2 separate regions of the Homo sapiens genome follow, and region 1 is linked to region 2. The links come from fine-mapping of genetic effects on gene expression. Tissue or cell type: whole blood. Region 2 holds a variant in brackets; the other region holds the start of a gene. All regions are shown on one strand. Distances are between the middles of the regions.

The links. PIP is the estimated chance that this variant, and not a neighbour inherited with it, causes the effect.
Region 1: NSMAF starts here. The variant in region 2 is fine-mapped to the expression of NSMAF in whole blood (TOPMed, PIP 0.98).

What each region holds. Positions count from the first base shown.
Region 1 is chr8:58,657,608-58,661,848 of GRCh38, forward strand. It overlaps NSMAF (neutral sphingomyelinase activation associated factor), which reads right to left and starts at 2,246. Exons shown (of 31, transcript NM_003580.4): 1 at 1,966-2,246. The coding sequence starts at 2,024. RefSeq lists enhancers at 686-1,249, 784-1,073, 1,250-1,812 and silencers at 1,524-1,973, 1,984-2,323.
Region 2 is chr8:58,593,036-58,597,276 of GRCh38, forward strand. It overlaps NSMAF (neutral sphingomyelinase activation associated factor), which reads right to left. Exons shown (of 31, transcript NM_003580.4): 22 at 2,525-2,624; 23 at 1,197-1,255. Among named protein-coding and RNA genes, the nearest start is that of SDCBP, 42 kb to the left of the region's middle. RefSeq lists enhancers at 1,592-2,791, 3,141-3,190. The variant CT/C (reference allele first, on the strand shown) is at 2,650.

The DNA of each region.
Region 1 (4,241 bases), 65 kb after region 2:
AGTGCATACCTGATGTGAGACAGATTCCTGTCATTCAAATGCATATTCTATGCATTGAATGGAGTATGCCCATCAGCCCAGGTTGCAAAGCCATGGGGCAGAGCACTAAACAATTTGGGCACTCAGCAAGTTATAATTCAAATAAATATAAAACACATGGCGCCAACTTTTTCAGATGACTGATGCTCAGGAACAGTTGATGCCTCCTGACTGGATAGATAAATGTTTTGGTTGCCAAGAGCTAGAGTTCTCTCTGAACACTGCCAGCCTATCACGTTGTTGTCTAATCAATGAATTCTAACAAAGCAGCATATACATGGAAATGCAAGTACAGGTTTCAAGGTTTGTGTGACACCACGGAGCTGTATGAGCTAGCCAAATTGAACACAAATTACTTCATCGAAATAACAGCCAGAACCAAGGAAAAAACGTTTCCCTGTATATCAAAAAGGCCAATATGAGTATTGGCACGAATGACTCATATCATACAACATGATGCCAATTCAAGTGTGTCAAAGTTCTCACAATTTAAATATGAATGTTCACCCACTCAATACAGAGCACCAACAAGTCTTAATATTGTTGGTACTAAACAAAGAATCTCCACTCAAGCTCTTTCCACAAGAAAAATGCATTACAAATTCAGTCAGAAGGGCATCCCCAAGTGTGAGTTACATAGTTAGGGCTCAGTTATTTAATAAACAACCCTTTCTGTGACTAAAACCTAATCACATCACCAAAAACATTTTTGAAAGCCATATCTGAGATACGTTTTCTGTGTATCGTATCTTCTTCTCTACAGTAGAAAAATGACATTTCGTACTGTGGACACACTGGTTAGACCAACATTACAGATTAGAGAAAGATGAATGTCTGGATCAAAGGGGTCGAGTCAACCCTTATAAAACAAGTGTAGACAAATCTTGAAGTCTGCACTTGTATTCCCACGTGTAACCTGCTTTGCTGGTATTCACTGATGAGACAACGTGACAGGCTAGCAGCACTGGAAGATCTGTGGCTCTCACAATCAAAACAGTGTGTCTGTAAAATGATTCAGCCCCCCTTTCCTTTTGGCATCTGAGCTGCAGACCGAGCAAGTTGTTTCTGTCACCAAAAATGCCCTGGGAACTATACATAGAGCCGAAGTGAGCTTTCTTATGAGACTTCCCTTGGGGACAGGTCCAGCATATCTGAAAGGGAACTGCTGTGAGACCATTTTAGCTCAAGGGATCCCAAATCCTTACTGGGATGCTGGTGAGAATGAGTGCTCCGCTGCCGCACCGCGATTTCGACTGCAAAGCTTTCCAACACAAGGTCCACTGCGCGGGGAGCAAGTGTTTGGGAGGCAGGACCTTGGCTTTCCTCAGAATCAGGCCTTTCCGGCGGCCCCCCTCCCAGCCTTCCAGGGCATGGAGCTAGTCCTGTGTCTAAAGGAGTCGGCAGGAAAAAGGCGCGGCAATGCGAGTGGGTGGTCGCCGGCCTGCTCGGTGCCGCCCGGCGACCAACTCTGCGGCGCCGGCGCCGAGTGCCTGGACCCGATTAAGGGGAAGGATTAGAAAGGGGGTGCCCGCCGGGCAGCGTACTCACCCTCCCCTGCGAACGCCCGGGCTCGCGTGCCGGGATCCACGCCCGGACCCCGCGCGGCCTTCCGGGTGAGCTGCCCGCGGCCGCCGGGACCTGCACTGCCGGATAGCTCGGCATGCCTCGGCTCCGCGGTGGAATCTGGCCTGGCCCGTCATCCAGTTCCTGTCCCCGGCAGGCTCCGGCCCAGACCAGGCCCCCGGCCTCTCACCCCGACCTCAGGTTTCCGCCACAGCCCCCAGCCCAGGCCCTGGACACGCGTCCGGCCCCTGCCTCCGTGCCCGGCCCCCACGCCGCCTCCCGTCCCTCAGATCTCCGGCCGGCGTCCCCACGACCGGCCCCGACTAGGCCCCCGGCTGGGCCCTTCTTCAGCTGGGCGCGCACCTCTCCTTGGAGTAGAGCTGCAGCTGCTGCTCCTGCTGCTTCTTCCGGATAAACGCCATGGAGGGTAGGCGCGGGCGGGCGCAGAGCGCACAGGCAGGCCCCGCCGCCGCCTGCCGAGGAGGTCCGGAGGAGCCGGGGAGGGCGGGATTGGTGGCCGGCTGGGGAGCGCGCGGCTGCCGGCCTGGCTTCCCCTGCGGCGCCGCTGGGCGGCCGAGAGCCCGACGCGGCGTCCCGGCCGCGCTCACCGCAGCATCCTCGCGTGGGGACTCCGGCGGCACCGTGACTCAGGCCCGGAGGAGGGGCGCGCGGTGACACGAGGCGCCCCAAACTCAGGCCGCCTCAGAGGATCGCCAGGGCCAGCGGCCAGACCAGGATCCGACCTCACACACTAAACGTTTCACCACTTTACCAACCATTGCAGGCTGCGTTTTAAATATTTTACGCATAAAAAGGGATGCTGGCCCATAAACCACCAATCTGTTGGCCACAAAGACTTGAAATAACAACGTTTTGTGTCCTCCATTGTGAAAAAAAAAAAAAGACGGAAGTTAAAGGGGTGAAGGCAACTCAGTCGTAACTATTCCAAATACACCAGGAATAAGTGGAGATTTATAGCCAAGGAGCAAGGAGCAGGTGTTCGGAAAACTGCTAAGAGGAAACATCAATTCTGGGGGAAATTCTGGCTGAACCAACCTAACAGGAGTCCCAGTGAAGGCAGGCCAGGGGGTCAGATACTAAGGGTAGGAGTAAAGAATTTTGATCACATATGGAGGGTGGGGGATTCTTGCTAAACTGCCGTGGCAGTGTTACTTCCTAACACTGCATTTACAAGGAAGTGCACACAAGGACCTGGGAGAAGATTCAGAAGCCTAACTGAAGTTTGGCCAAGCAAAGAATCTTTAACACAGTCTCTTGATTGTTGAGATAATTGCTCGCATGATTTTTTTTTATATAACAGCTTTATTGGGATATAACTCACATACCAAACAAGTCAACCATTTAAAGTATACCATTCAGCGATTTTTAGTATATTTCCAGATATGTTCAACAATCACCACAATTTGAGAACATTTTCATCACATGTAAAAGAAACCCATACCCTCTAGCTGTCACTCTTCCTAACTCTACCCTCCAAACCCCAGCCCTAGCAAACAATAATCAATTTCCTGTCTCTATGGGTTTGCCTATTCTGGATATTTCATATAAATGGAGCCATACAATATGTGGCCTTTTGTGTCTGGCTTCTTTCATTTAGCGTAATGCTTTCAAGGTTCATCTATGTTGTAGCATGTATCTGTACAGTACTTCGTTCCTTTAGATTGCTGGAGCATATTCTGTTGCATTTTGTTTATCCATTCATCAGTTGATGGACATTTCAGTTGTTTCCACATTTTGGCTATTGTGAATAAGGCTGCTGTACACAGTCATGTACAGTTTTTTTATGGACCTATGTTTCCATTTCTGTTGAGTGGAATTGGAATCTAAGAGTGGAATTGCTGGATGTGGAGGCGAAAGCAGCTCCATCTTGGAAGCTAATCCTCCGTGTTGACTTCTGATTGACCCCAGTTCTGGGAAGGCCTCTAAGATTTCTACTTTATCTATTGTTCCTTGTGTAAGAGCAGGTATCTACCCAGTATGTTCTGTCCTTAATTCAAACAACTTGATGTTATTATACTTCAATTGTCCTACACATCCCTTCTGAACCACCCCTCCCCTATGGTATATAAGCCCTAAGGGGCTGGAGTGATGGCTCATGCCGGTAATCCCAATGCTTTTGGAAGTTGAAGCTGGAGGATTCCTTGAAGCCAGGAGTTCGAGACCAGCCTGGGCAACAAAGCAAGACCCTGTCTCTACAAAAAATAAAAAATAAAAATTACCTGGGTACAGTGGCACACACCTATAGTCCCAGCTACTGGAGAGGCTGAGGCAGGAGGATTGCTTGAAGCCAGGAGTTCGAGACCAGCCTGGGCAACAAAGCAAGACCCTGTCTCTACAAAAAATAAAAAATAAAAATTACCTGGGTGCAGTGGCACACACCTATAGTCCCAGCTACTGGAGAGGCTGAGGCAGGAGGATCACTTGAGTCCAGGAGTTTGAGGCTTCTGTGAGCCATGATCGTACCACTGCACCCCAACCTAGGCAATACAGAGAGAGAGAGACCTTATCTCAAAAGAAAAAAAAAAAAAAACATTGAGTCTGGGGGTTAATAGCACAGCAATCCACCATCTCATCTTGCTGCCCAAGACACAGATATGGACATGGCTTCTGTTCCTTAG
Region 2 (4,241 bases):
ACAAGTACAACTGTGCTGAACGATTTAACAAGCCATCCCAGACAAATCCTGCTAAGAACACAGGTTTTGCTTAAAGATAAAGCACTTTGTCTGAGGCTATAATTTTTGGCAAACTCCACAGGTAGAAATCCTGGCAAAATACAGATTGCTTCCTTCTATCAGAGAAGTGCCTCGGTGACCCTGGCATGGCCCAGTTTGGGAACTGCACATGAACTTCCTTTTGATCTACTGTGTAGAATCACTTCTATGCTTTGTGGAAAATTTTTTTATATACAATCCAAGACAGTATTTGAAAAAGAACAGAATGAAATGCTACAGATCATAAACAATGATAACAGAATCTGAGAGTAGTAATTCTGATTTTCCTGAAAGTGTTTAGTTGGATAGCACTTTGTCTTAATGAATGAAAAATATAATCTCCTATGATAAAGACTAAATAACGAGTAGCCTTACTTTATAAAGTTACAAACTTTGTCAGAACAAGTTGTTTTCTCATGGAAGCAGGAAGCAAAGATACTACCCTTCCATCTCTGCATCTTCCAGAGTGCCAACACAGTGCTCTCAACATGACAAGGCCAAGACATACTTTAATGAATAATATATAATGCAGACTACCAGGGAGAGAACAATGGTGTATATAGTAAGGGATGCTTTCTGCTTTACAGCTATAAGTCATATCAATGACACACTGCAAGGGTTTTTATAATTTTGATAATGTATAAGCATATTAAATAATACATGAATTTGATTTTGAGCTAAATCAAATATCCCGAAGAAATATACACTGAATGACAAAACTGCAAACCGTAACAGCAAATCTGCATTTCCACGTGCTGACAGGCACACATCAATTTCTGATACAGCACTTGCTACTCACAGCCAACCCCAACAAGTGGACAGCGCACCTCTCATGGGCAGGCAGGAAGTGCCTGACCCAGCAAGGGTGTGGAAAGGAGGCTGTTTCTGTCCTCTATCCTCAACTCTGGGAAACCTCATCAGCAACAGAAAGATGTTTCATTATTATTTTTGGCAAATTACCATGAAACTCTATGTAATGTACCACAAAGGAACTGCTCTAAGTTTACTTTATGTGGAGGCAGCACATGCAAGTGCAGTCCTTGACCACGAGCTAAATAATAAAGAACTCAGACATTCTAGGATTTTGGTTAAGCCGCCTTTCGGGGAGGAACACTGACCTTGGGATGTTGTGAATACTGAAGATCCATTGCGAGAGACCGTGATTCCAGTAACTGCTCTGCTCAAAAACAAAGTTTCACAAATTACTACTCATCATGTGTTAGGATACCCTCTTTGTTTCATATCCTTGATTTAATTTTACCAAGTTTCCTTAATTTTTTTCTTCACAGCATGTCTGCCGGATCTGTCCCAGCATAAACCTGCCATTACCAAATCACTGCTTGGCACCTTCTAACGTTCTGGCAACGCCTGTGGCTAGAAAACATCCCCACTCTTTGCTTCCCTGTGTTCCACATGCAATGCTTTACATATTCCTGACAATTTCTGGCAATTGGAAAACTCTTCTCCTTCTATTCCCCCTCGTTTGACCATCACCAAAAGGACAAACTCTTCTTCACAGTCACTTCACTTGCTGATTACTGAAGCTAATTTACTCAGTGACTATTCAATGATGAGAAAATTGGTTCCAGCCTGTCCTCTTAAAGGATCATTCAGTCTTCACTACCTTGGATTACAAGGTCCCTTCCTATGTGCCATTTAGAGAAGTTGAGAAAAGACAGCCATTGTCATCATGAATCAGCCAAAACTCCTTGTTTCTCTTCGGGAGGCTGGACTGTGATGTGAAGCCATCCATCTAATGCACAGCAGTATGCCCAGCTCCACCCATGACCTGTATGCCGGAGGGGCTGTCTGTCGTCATGGAGCTAGGTGGGGCCTAGTCTCTGGACCTGGGTTTCCTCTCTGTAGCAGGATGAACAGGCTAGGTCAGTGCTTCTCGAGCCTTTCTACCAGAGAACATGAAGGTCTTAATGAGAGAGGGCAGAGAACACACATATCATCTCTGGGTCCAACAGCAAGCCCAATTTCTTAGAAGCATAATTATTTTTAAAATTCATGTGAACTTTGCAATGTTCTCTGGGAGAGCTAATTTTTTTAAAAGGTGCCTTTTCACCTACATTATGTGTAAATCCAACACTCGTGGGGTATACATCACACTTCTCCCATCAAAGATTCAAGGAGCTGTGTACTCCAATTTGAGAGGCACAAAACTGGCTGCTCTCTGCCGACCACATCTTGTACTGTGAAGTGACAGACTGCAGAAATGACAGCACGGTAGCCACCACAAATCATTTCGTGCCAAACTTTCCCTACTACATCAACCTCAGGTGGAGATCACTATAGACATTTTGGGGAGATTTTTAAAAATAAAGACAACATTGAAAGGGAATTTTCCCTCTGACTCAGCTTAAAACAGTTTAATCCCATGCCAAGACCCTAACTTTTACCAGGACTATCAGCTGCTGAGAAGAAGCAGAGATATTCTTACTCTTTGTGGATTTTATAGTGCTCGTGTAACTGCAGTTTGGTGATGTTATTCCAGGCCAGTGTTTTGCTTTCTTCGGTCAGGTCTTCAAAAGACTCTTCACCTGGAGAGACGACATTAAATTTTTG[CT/C]AAGTCAACTAAGTTACCAACAGACAACAGCATCAGATTAACAATATTTTCTATTAAAATCAAACAACTAAGAAATGAAACACCCTGTCACAATATAACTGCTTTGAAATGTACCTGTTAGATGGTTCCACGTTAGTCAAGGAAAAAATTGTATAGAGAAAGATAAAAAGTATCTTTGAATAATACTAGAATCTTTTTATACTTTAACAATGTTTGCAAAGTTTTCACTCGGCCTCTAACTTATGAATTTGGGGAAATACAAGACTGAGTCATCATTTCCTTGTCAACATTGTTTCAAAAACCTGACAGTTGCCTAAGAATGCAACAATTTTGTTCTGGTGTGGGGTGGGGAAAGCAGAGATGAAATCAATTACCGCAAGGGCTTCTGGCAGGAGTAATCCTTTTACTTCTGCTTTAAGAAGGGCTGAAACAATTACCATCTTAAAACAATCACATGACAGTGGTTACAGCCTGGTGACTAAGCAGAGTGCAGTTTGAAACAGCATCACAAGATAATCCTGTGATCTTCATGATTTAACCCTCTAGAGTATTCTCTCTTAAAGAAGCTACCCCTGGGTCATGTAACTCCAGGAAGCTATTTCTCCATGCTTGAGAGAATGCTCATCTATGTATGCCTAAAATGTCTGGATGTCCTTGGAACAGACAGGAGGATAGGAGATAAAAAGTGATTTTGCTCCCAAAGCTCCACAGAGTGTCAACCTCCTTCTGGAAGCCTGTAGGTTTGAAGTTGTCTTAGGTAAAATCTAAAACCTGGGTAACTGGAGAAAGGTGAGTGTTCTTTCCTACCTTTCCAAATATTAGATGTGAGAACTGGGTCAAGTTCAATTTAGTGCCTAGCACATGCCCAGCGCAGAACAGATACCCTGTAAATGTTTGTCAAATGTTAAATAAGTGAAATCCAATGAAGAAGAGAGAGCACTTTGAATTCAAGATGTATGTGGGGCCGAGCGCGGTGGCTCAGGCCTGTAATCCCAGCACTTTGGGAGGCCGAGGAGGGTGGATCACGAGGTCAGGAGATCGAGACCATCCTGGCTAACACAGTGAAACCCTGTCTCTACTAAAAATACAAAAATTAGCCGGGCGTGGTGGCGGGCGCCTGTAGTCCCAGCTACTCAGGAGGCTGAGGCAGGAGAACGGCGGCGTGAACCCGGGAGGCGGAGCTTGCAGTGAGCCGAGATGGCGCCACTGCACTCCAGCGTGGGGGACAAAGCAAGACTCCGTCTCAAAAAAAAAAAAAAAAAAGATCTGTATGTGGGTATAGAAGAGCATAATTAGGGCCAGAGAAAGTCCCTTCTGGAAGACAGCAGGGCTGACAGTGACTGGGAAGGCAGACTGGACAGCTAGGACTGTAAGAATGAAAAGGCAAATAGCTAAGGATCAAACACCAGCTTCAAAACCACAGAAGAGAAAGAGAACCACATCAAAACATATATGGCCAACTTTCACTCATATTCAATTGCCAGAAAATAAAAGCGATTTGATTTCCCTTACAGTCTATAGCTGAAAACAAACAACATCAGCAAAAACAGGTATCTGTTTTCAGGAGAACTGCAATAAGGCAGGAGAACAC